Regions from separate parts of the Homo sapiens genome. Here region 2 is reported to be linked to region 1. The links are microRNA targets in miRTarBase. Many come from high-throughput screens and were not tested one by one. Region 1 holds a microRNA gene; the other region holds the end of a gene's coding sequence.
Evidence for each region. Region 1 holds the annotated microRNA hsa-miR-4765 (UGAGUGAUUGAUAGCUAUGUUC, at 2,911-2,932, shown strand). A microRNA usually pairs through its seed, bases 2 to 8, with sites in the 3' UTR of a target mRNA and lowers its output. Matches are read on the target gene's strand: a 7mer-m8 pairs with bases 2 to 8, a 7mer-A1 pairs with bases 2 to 7 and ends in A, and an 8mer does both.

Region 1 (4,150 bases):
AATGCATTATTCACTGATATACCAGATTTCTATCTTGTCACATAAAGCTAAAAAGAGACATTTCAGTTGACTCATTTTCAGACATTTGAAAGTTAAAGTGTATTTTCAGTTCACCTTATGGATTTTGTTTTTTGATTAGGACAGTTTATTAAGGCTGTTTTCTCCAAATTTCCAAACTTCTGATTGCATACCAGCTCTTTTGTTATCTTTTTTCTCTAATGCTGCTTATTTGCATTGCATCCAGAGTTTTATATTTTTGCTACCATAGGCTTGTATGTTTGATTTTTTTTTTTCTTTTTCTGAAAGACTCTTCCTTTTAAGGAAGGGCCTAGGGGCTGTGGGGAAAAAAGTGATTACTAATACTTTCTCTTCAGAATGAAACTCCAGGATTCCCTGGCTGTTATTTGCTAGAGTTGGATCTGTACCTATTTAGATCCTAATTTAGGGTTTGGCACATTATGGCTGGCAGGCTAACTAAGTGGCTAAGAATTAATGGGTTTTACATTTTTAAAGGGTTGGAAAAAAACAAACATGATATGCAAAGCCTAAAATATTTCATATTTAGAAAAAGTTTGCCTATCCCTGTCTCACATCACAGCAAGACTGAAAAATAGAGTTTTCACTAAAATATCTATATGTTTTGTTGTTGTTGTTGTTCTAGCATTTGGTGGTATGGGATTGGTAAACAATTAGCAACAACTTTATATCATCACTTTTCTTTTGTATAAAGTCAGTTTTCTATACATCTTGCAACATCAGAGCTGTTAAAGGGAGTGCAAGAAAAACTTATAGATGTCTGATCAGAACCTAAATCAACACCGTTCAAGATAATTTTCCGTGGAGATAGAAGTGCTCTCTATCTTCATTGCCCACATGGTAGCCACTAGCCACACTTAACTATTGAGCACTTGAAATATGGAAAGTATGACTAAGGAACTGAATTATAAATTTTATTAATTTTAACTAATGCAAATTTAAACCATGTTTGGCTCGTGGCTATAATATTGGATATTGTAGACCTAATTTCTTTTTTTTTTAAGAGAGACAGGGTCTCGCTTTATCATCTAGGCTGGAGTACAGTGCTATGATCAAAGCTTACTACAGCCTCAAACTCCTGGGCTGCAAGCAATCCTCATGCATCAGCCTCTTGAGTAGCTGGGATGTACCACCATGCCGGCTAACTTTTAATTTTTTTGTAGAGACAGGGTCTCACTATGTTTCTCAGGCTGGTTTTGAACTCCTGGGTTCAAATGATCCTCCTACCGTGGCCTTCCAAAGTGCTGGAATTACAGGCATGAACCACTGTGCCTAGCTAACCTAAATTGTTTTAAGTTTTAGAAATTTTTTTTTTTGGTAATACTCTAGGATAGTCTCAATAAATGTTGATAGATATTATTTTCTTAATAAAACTGAAATGGAATAGTGTGTTTGAGATTATACAGTGATAGTAGTTCATATTTATTTCTTTAACCATTCTTATATGCAGACAACAGTTGATATTTCTACTTGGTGTGAGCAGTTTGCAACTTTTTGTTCAGAGCAACTGGACGGGGCCCCCTGTTGACTTACACCCTCAGGACTTTTTGTCATCTGTTTTGTTCCAGCAATTCAGTGAGGTATGCTTCTTGAAAATGTTGTATGTAATTATTATTATGTTATTTATTTTTTATAAGCAGGTCTTTATAAACTGGAACTCATAGTAGGAAAGAAACATGACTTTATGGTTTGCACAAAAGTACTAAGAATGCTTGTTCATTGATCAGATTTTCACAGATTTCCAGAAGTTCCTTTGTCAAACTCCTCTTCATACACACTCCATTTTATGGAGCTGTGTTAGCTGTGTTTTTTAATGAAAGTACAGACAGCTGCACCAGTTGTTTAGTTGGTTGTATCACCTCAGTTACATAAAGATTTTTTTTTTTTGAGATGGTATCTCACTCAGTCATCCAGGCTGTTGTACAGTGGCTGGATTACAGCTCACTGCACCCTCAACCTACTCAGGCTCAGGCGATCTTCCCACCTCAGCCTCCCAAGTAGTTGGGACTACAGTTGCATGCCAACATGTCCAGCTAATTTTTTTGTAGAGATGGAGTTTTGCCATGTTGCCCAGGCTGGTCTGAAACTCCTGGGCTCAAGTGGTCTGCCTGCCTCAGCCTCCCAAAGTGCTAGGATTATAGGTGTGAGCGCTGTACATAAAGATCTTTAATGGCAAAGCAGCAAATCTGGAAATCTGTTTAATTTTATTTCAGGTAAGTTTTTAACTAATTAATTAATTAATTTTTTTTGAGACAGAGTCTTGCTCTGTCACCCAGGCTGGAGTACAATGGCGCGATCTCAGCTCACTGCAACCTCTGCCCCATGGGTTCAAGCAATTCTTCTGCTTCAGCCTCCCTAGTAGCTGGGATTACAGGCGTGTGCTACCACACTTGGCTAATTTTTGTATTTTTACTAGATGTGGGGTTTCTCCATGTTGGCCAGGCTGGTCCCAAACTCCTGACCTTAAGTGATCCTCCCACCTCAGCCTCCCAAAGTGCTGGGTTTACAGGCGTGAGCCACCATTCCCGGCTTGCAGGTAAGTTTTGATACTGTACTTAAGAATGGCTCCCAGGAGTGGTTTGCTCCCAGGGGTGGCTTTAAATTACAAATACTTTATTAAAGTTTCTGGCACAGCATTGCTTCATGGTGATTATTATCCATTGTGAAGATAATATTATCGATCTGTGCCAGTGTGTCGCCAATAGAGCTTGCAGTTTGAGTTCCTCAGGAATCTTGAGCTCCTATATAGAGGGTCTGGCTAGTATGAGATGATCTACAAAAGAAGTATGGTTTAAATCAAAGTAAGAACTTTGATTTATCCAGCCACTTTGGTGATTTTGAACGTAGCTATCCACCACTCAGCCTGGAAAAAGCTGAGTGATTGATAGCTATGTTCAAAATCACCAAATTGTATCCAGAACTCGTGCAGCAAAACAGACCTAGTGTTACCTGGTTTCTCAGAATTAGGTGTAGCAAGTAGGCCGGGCACAGTGGCTCATGCCTGTAATCCCAGCACTTTGGAAGGCCAAGGCGGGCGGTTCACGAGGTCAGGAGTTCAAGACCAGCCTGATCAACATGGTGAAACTCCGTCTTACTAAAAATACAAAAATTAGCCGGGTGTGGTGGTGCACGCTTGTAATCCCAGCTACTCAGGAGGCTGAGGCAGGACAATTGCTTGAACCCGGGAGGCGGAGGTTGCAGTGAGCCAAGATCACGCCACTGCACTCCAGCCTGGGTGACAGAGTGAGACTCCATTTCAAAAAAAGAAAAAAGAAAAAGAATTGGGTGTAGCAAGTAAATGTGGAATAGAGTTATTAGAGATATGTGTTAATAATTTGATGGGGGGGTAGAAAGAGAAGAAGTGCAAAAACAAGCATAAAGTGAAAACCACAATAATTAACTCTTTGCATATCAGCTTAGTGAGTCACTATATATACTTCATTAGAGTAATTTTAATCCATAATGCTGATCCTAATTATAACTGAAAGGTTAAAAGATGTTTTGTGTCTTATGTCTATGAAGGGAATTTATAATTTATATTCTACAGAGGTTTTCATCCAAAATGGGAGTAAAAAAACCCCAAACCCTAAATGATTGTAGCAGTTAAAGAGATAAGCTTCAGTTATCTAGAAATGTACTTAGGAAACATCTCATTCCCTCTCTTATTATGTATGAATCAGTTTCTGGCTTCTATGGCCCTATAGTATAGATTAGAAATCCACCAAACAGCCAAAGCCATAAATATCTCCTGAACACTGATGTGTGGTTTGAATGGTACTTAATTCGCATTTCTTTTTTTTTGTTTTGAGACGGAGTCTCACTCTGTCGCCCAGGCTGGAGTGCAGTGGTGCGATCTCGGCTCACTGCAGTCTCTGCCTCCCGGGTTCAAATGATTCTCCCACCTCAGCCTCCCAAGCAGCTGGGACTACAGGTGCTCACCACCACGCCCGGCTAATTTTTGTATTTTTAGTAGAGACGGGGTTTCACCATGTTGGCCAGGGTGGTCTCAAACTCCTGACCTCAGGTGATCCACCCGCCTCGGCCTCCCAAAGTGTTAGGATTATGGTGTGAGCCACTGCGCCTGGCCTTAATTCACATTTCTTGTGCCAATTTG
Region 2 (4,000 bases), not on the chromosome of region 1:
AGGTTGCAGTGAGCTGAGATGACGCCACTGCACTCCAGCGTGGCAACAGTGAGACTCCGTCTCAAAAAAAAAAAAAAAAAAGTGCCCCCCCTGATGTGCCCCTGGCCCGGTCCCCAGAGCACGAACTTCCAGGAGCCGGTGCAGCCGCTGACACAGCAGCAGGTGGCGCAGATGCAGCTGAAGTACTACAACTCCGACGTGCACCGCGCCGCCTTTGTGCTGCCCGAGTTTGCCCGCAAGGTGGGTGGCCTGCGGGGCTGGGTGGTGGGACCCAGGGACCCAGAGCGCCCTCCTGACTGGCCTCATGTCCCTCCAGGCCCTGAATGATGTGAGCTGAGCCCAGGCGCCACCACTGATGCCACCCAGGACCTCGGACCTTGGAGCCTGCGGGGTGCCTCGGCCCCTCCAGCCCCGGGCCGGACCTCCTGCTGGCTCTCGCCCACCAACCAAGTGTTACAAGCCCCAGAATGCTGCCCGGCCTGCCCTGCTGGGCGGACTGTCTGTGTGTCTGTCTCTCTGGCGTTCCACCTCCAAGCCTATACCAGCTGTGTACAGCGCCATCTCTCTGCCTTCTGTTGCCCCTCACTCACCAAACACGTGTATTTATAGCAAAGATTGGAGTCCTGTGTCTCCTGACCTTGGCTGGGCCCAGGCAGGGCCACATTCACCATTGGGTGCCTCTGGGGTGAGGGTCTGCAGAGGCCTTGCTGGCTGACCCCCAAGTGTCTGCTGCAGGGCTGAGGCTGCAGGCGGGCCATCGTGGATAGCCTGGGGCACAGAGGGTCACCGCAGTCGTCACGTGGGACCCAGAGCTGTCCTGGGAAGCTGACTTAGCTGTCCTTTTACCAAGCCCTTCACAAGGCCACTGGTGACAGCCCCCCAGGGCAGTGGGGTGGGTGAGATCAGGGTGGGGCTGCCCGGGAGCATTCTCAGAAAAATTGGGGACACTCACAGGTGTAAGTCAGGTCCCATCCAGGTACTCCAGGGCAAATACAGGAAGGGGTGGCGGGGCTGGTTACCTTCGGCCTTTTTAAGCACATCAGGAGCTTAACACTGGCCCAGTGACTGTGCCCTGACTCCACCCGGCATTCAGACTTGGGTTCAAATTCCCACCATGCCCCGCCCCCTATGTGGACAAATTGAGAAAGCAAGTGTGGGCACCCCACCAGGGACTGCGAGGACCAGGGCTGTCCCCTCTCCAAGGTGCTGAACTCCCGCCTTCCAGGACCCAACGGTGGTGGGAGGACAGGAAAGGAACCCTCTTTGCATGGGCCTGAGTTGCCAACCCCTTTCCCCACCCTGGGCAGGGGCTGGGCTAGCGGACGCATCAGGGAGGGAGGCCCCACTCCCAGCCGAGGCAGCCACCTTGGAGCCCTAACTCACCCGGGTATGTTTTCTGGGACACCAGAGTAAGGGGGATTCAGTTTCGCCATCAACTCTGGCTTCAGGCCAGTCATAGCCCTCCAGTCTCCACCTGCCCCCCACTCCCCACCCCTGTGAATTCACCAGACTGAGCACCTTCAGACCTTTGGCCCATCAGCAGATCTGACCTCAGGCTAACTTCTCCAGGCCACCCTGACCTTTCAAATCAGTCTGGGGAGCTGGCGTCTGCCCCCGGGCCTTCATAGTCTCAGGGAAGGCCCGAGAGGAGCAGCTGGCGTTCAGGTGGGTTGGCAGGGGCTATTTCTGGAGCCTGACAGGCCAGGCTGCAGCTGGGTGGGCCAGGCACTTTCATTTAACCTTCACAACCACCTGCCCGCCAGGCATTGTTCCTGCTGCACAGAGGCAAGGCGATGTGCCTAAGGACACACAGCCAATCAGCAGCCACCGTCCGACGCCACTCCACCCTGCTCACCCCAGGGTCTCCTGCATCTCAGGCCAGGCACTCTGGAGGTCCCGGCATGGATGGTCTCTCTGACATCTACTCCCTGGCCAAGATCCAGGCAGGGAATGCTGCCCCCTTAGAGGGACGATCCCGTGACCCCCTAAGTGTGAGGGCCTTTCCCCAAGGGCTCTGGAATCGGTCCAGATCTCAATCTCAACTCTGCCTCCCTCAGCTCTGTGACCTGCAGCCACGCAGGCCCTCTGCCGGTTACCCCGATGTCAGAGGGGGAGCACACCGTCCCTGTTAGGAAGCTTTGGTGAGAAGCACGTGCGACGCAGCCCTCAACCAGTGCCGGCCCGAGAGAAGGGAGGGTGGACCAGGTTGTGGAAACAGCCGGGGCCATCTGGGAGGCAGGAGATCTGGGAAGCAGCTGCAGGAAGATGAAGTTGCCGGCAGCGTAGATCCTGCGCCTCCCCAGCCTATAGTCTATACACACACCTGGCCGCCGCGAAGAGGCATGCACCAGGGATGGGGGCAAGCCTGAGCCCCACGACTGGGTGGGTGCGATGCAGCCCAGGATGATCTGCTGAAACAGAAACAGCCTTGATGAGGACACAACCTGGGTCCCCCAGCGTCCCAGAAATCTTTGGGCCACAAACAGGCCCAGTGTGGCATGGGGAATAACATCAATCCTATCTAGACTTTTCAAAATTTGATTTATGATAATTAGCCAGGCCCCTGGCTTAAGGATTCATGGGTCCGTGCGGCTTGTCAGAAGAAAAATCACAGTCCTCCTCCCGCAGCCCCTTTCCCTCTTGGAGCTGATTATTTGGGGTTTATCTTCTGTAGTAGAAGAAGAAATCGATTTGGTGTTTGTCCCCAGTTCCTGTCACGGAGCCGCTAACACCTTTGGAAATTCCTGATCGGTAGGCGTGTCTTGTCGTTCATTATATGCTCTGTTAGAGAACTCCCGAGTTTATGCTAATGCAGTGGTCTAGGGTAGAGCCCCGGGGGAGCCTCAGGGTGGGGCTGGTAAGTAAGACCTAAAGACTGAAGGGTTGGGACTTTCACCCCACCCAATGACTGCCAGGAAAGGATCAGGAGGGCTCTGGAGATGAAGCTGTACAAATTCATGAACAATGAGCGCAGCCCCGGGTGGTGGCTCATGCCTGTAATCCCAGCACATTGGGAGGCCGAGGTGCGCAGATCACTTGAGGCCAGGAGTGTTGGGAGGGCAACATGGCAAAACCTCGTCTCTACTAAAAACACAAGCATTATCCTGGTGTGGTGGCGCACGTCTATAACCCCAGCTACTCGGAAGGCTGAGGCAGGGGAATCACTTAAACCCAGGAAGCGGAAGTTGTGAAACTGCCTTTGCCAAATTATGACTGAGACAGTGAAAGAGACCTAACTTAGCCAACTCCATCTTGCTTCTAGCCTCCAAGCTGTCCTTCTTCATTCCTGGGCGTAGGCTGAACTAACGTTGGGAGAAATTTAGTTTATAGTTTAAACAAAGACGGTCACAGCCCTTTCTCAAAGCAGATGTTCTTGCCTGGGGACTAGACTGTCTTTGTAGGATTAACATTAGCCACAAGATTAGAAATTATGGTTTAGAGTCATGCAGCTGGAGGCTACGAGATTCCCACCCTCCCTAAACTGCTCCTAAGATCAGTGCTTGAGATATTTTGCAGATCCTGCCTTGATGGATCAGCCGGCACCACCCAGATGGATAAACGGGCTCATCTGATCTTGTGACCCCCACCCAGGACTCAGTGCAAGAAAACAGCTCTGACTCCGACTGCCTGTGATTTCATCTCTGACCAGTCAGCACTCCTGGCTCACTGGCTTCCCCCTACCCACCAGGTTATCCTTAAAAACTCTACTCCCCGAATGTTCGGGGAGACTGATTTGAGTAATAGTAAAATTCTGGTCTCCCGCACAGCCAGCTCTGCGTGAATTACTCTTTCTCTATTGCAATTCCCCTGTCTTGATGAATCAGCTCTGTCTAGACAGCTGGCAAGGTGAACCCCTTGGGCGGTTACAGTTACAGTGAGCCGAGATCGCGCCACTGCGCTCCAGCCTGGGTGACAGAGCAAGACTCTGTCTTAAAAAAAAAAAGGAAAAAAAAGAAAAAAACCAGTTAAAGAAAATAAAAGGAAAAAGCAAAAGAAAAAA

Region 2: the mRNA of SRM is a reported target of hsa-miR-4765. Seed matches in the 3' UTR shown: 7mer-A1 at 583-589.

What each region holds. Positions count from the first base shown.
Region 1 is chr2:32,632,390-32,636,539 of GRCh38, forward strand. It overlaps MIR4765 (microRNA 4765), which reads left to right and starts at 2,866; the gene lies at 2,866-2,942. It overlaps TTC27 (tetratricopeptide repeat domain 27), which reads left to right. Exons shown (of 20, transcript NM_017735.5): 3 at 1,487-1,616.
Region 2 is chr1:11,051,202-11,055,201 of GRCh38, reverse strand. It overlaps SRM (spermidine synthase), which reads left to right. Exons shown (of 8, transcript NM_003132.3): 7 at 118-240; 8 at 317-613. The coding sequence ends at 337. Among named protein-coding and RNA genes, the nearest start is that of MASP2, 6.0 kb to the right of the region's middle. RefSeq lists enhancers at 1,788-2,037, 2,368-2,447, 3,055-3,134.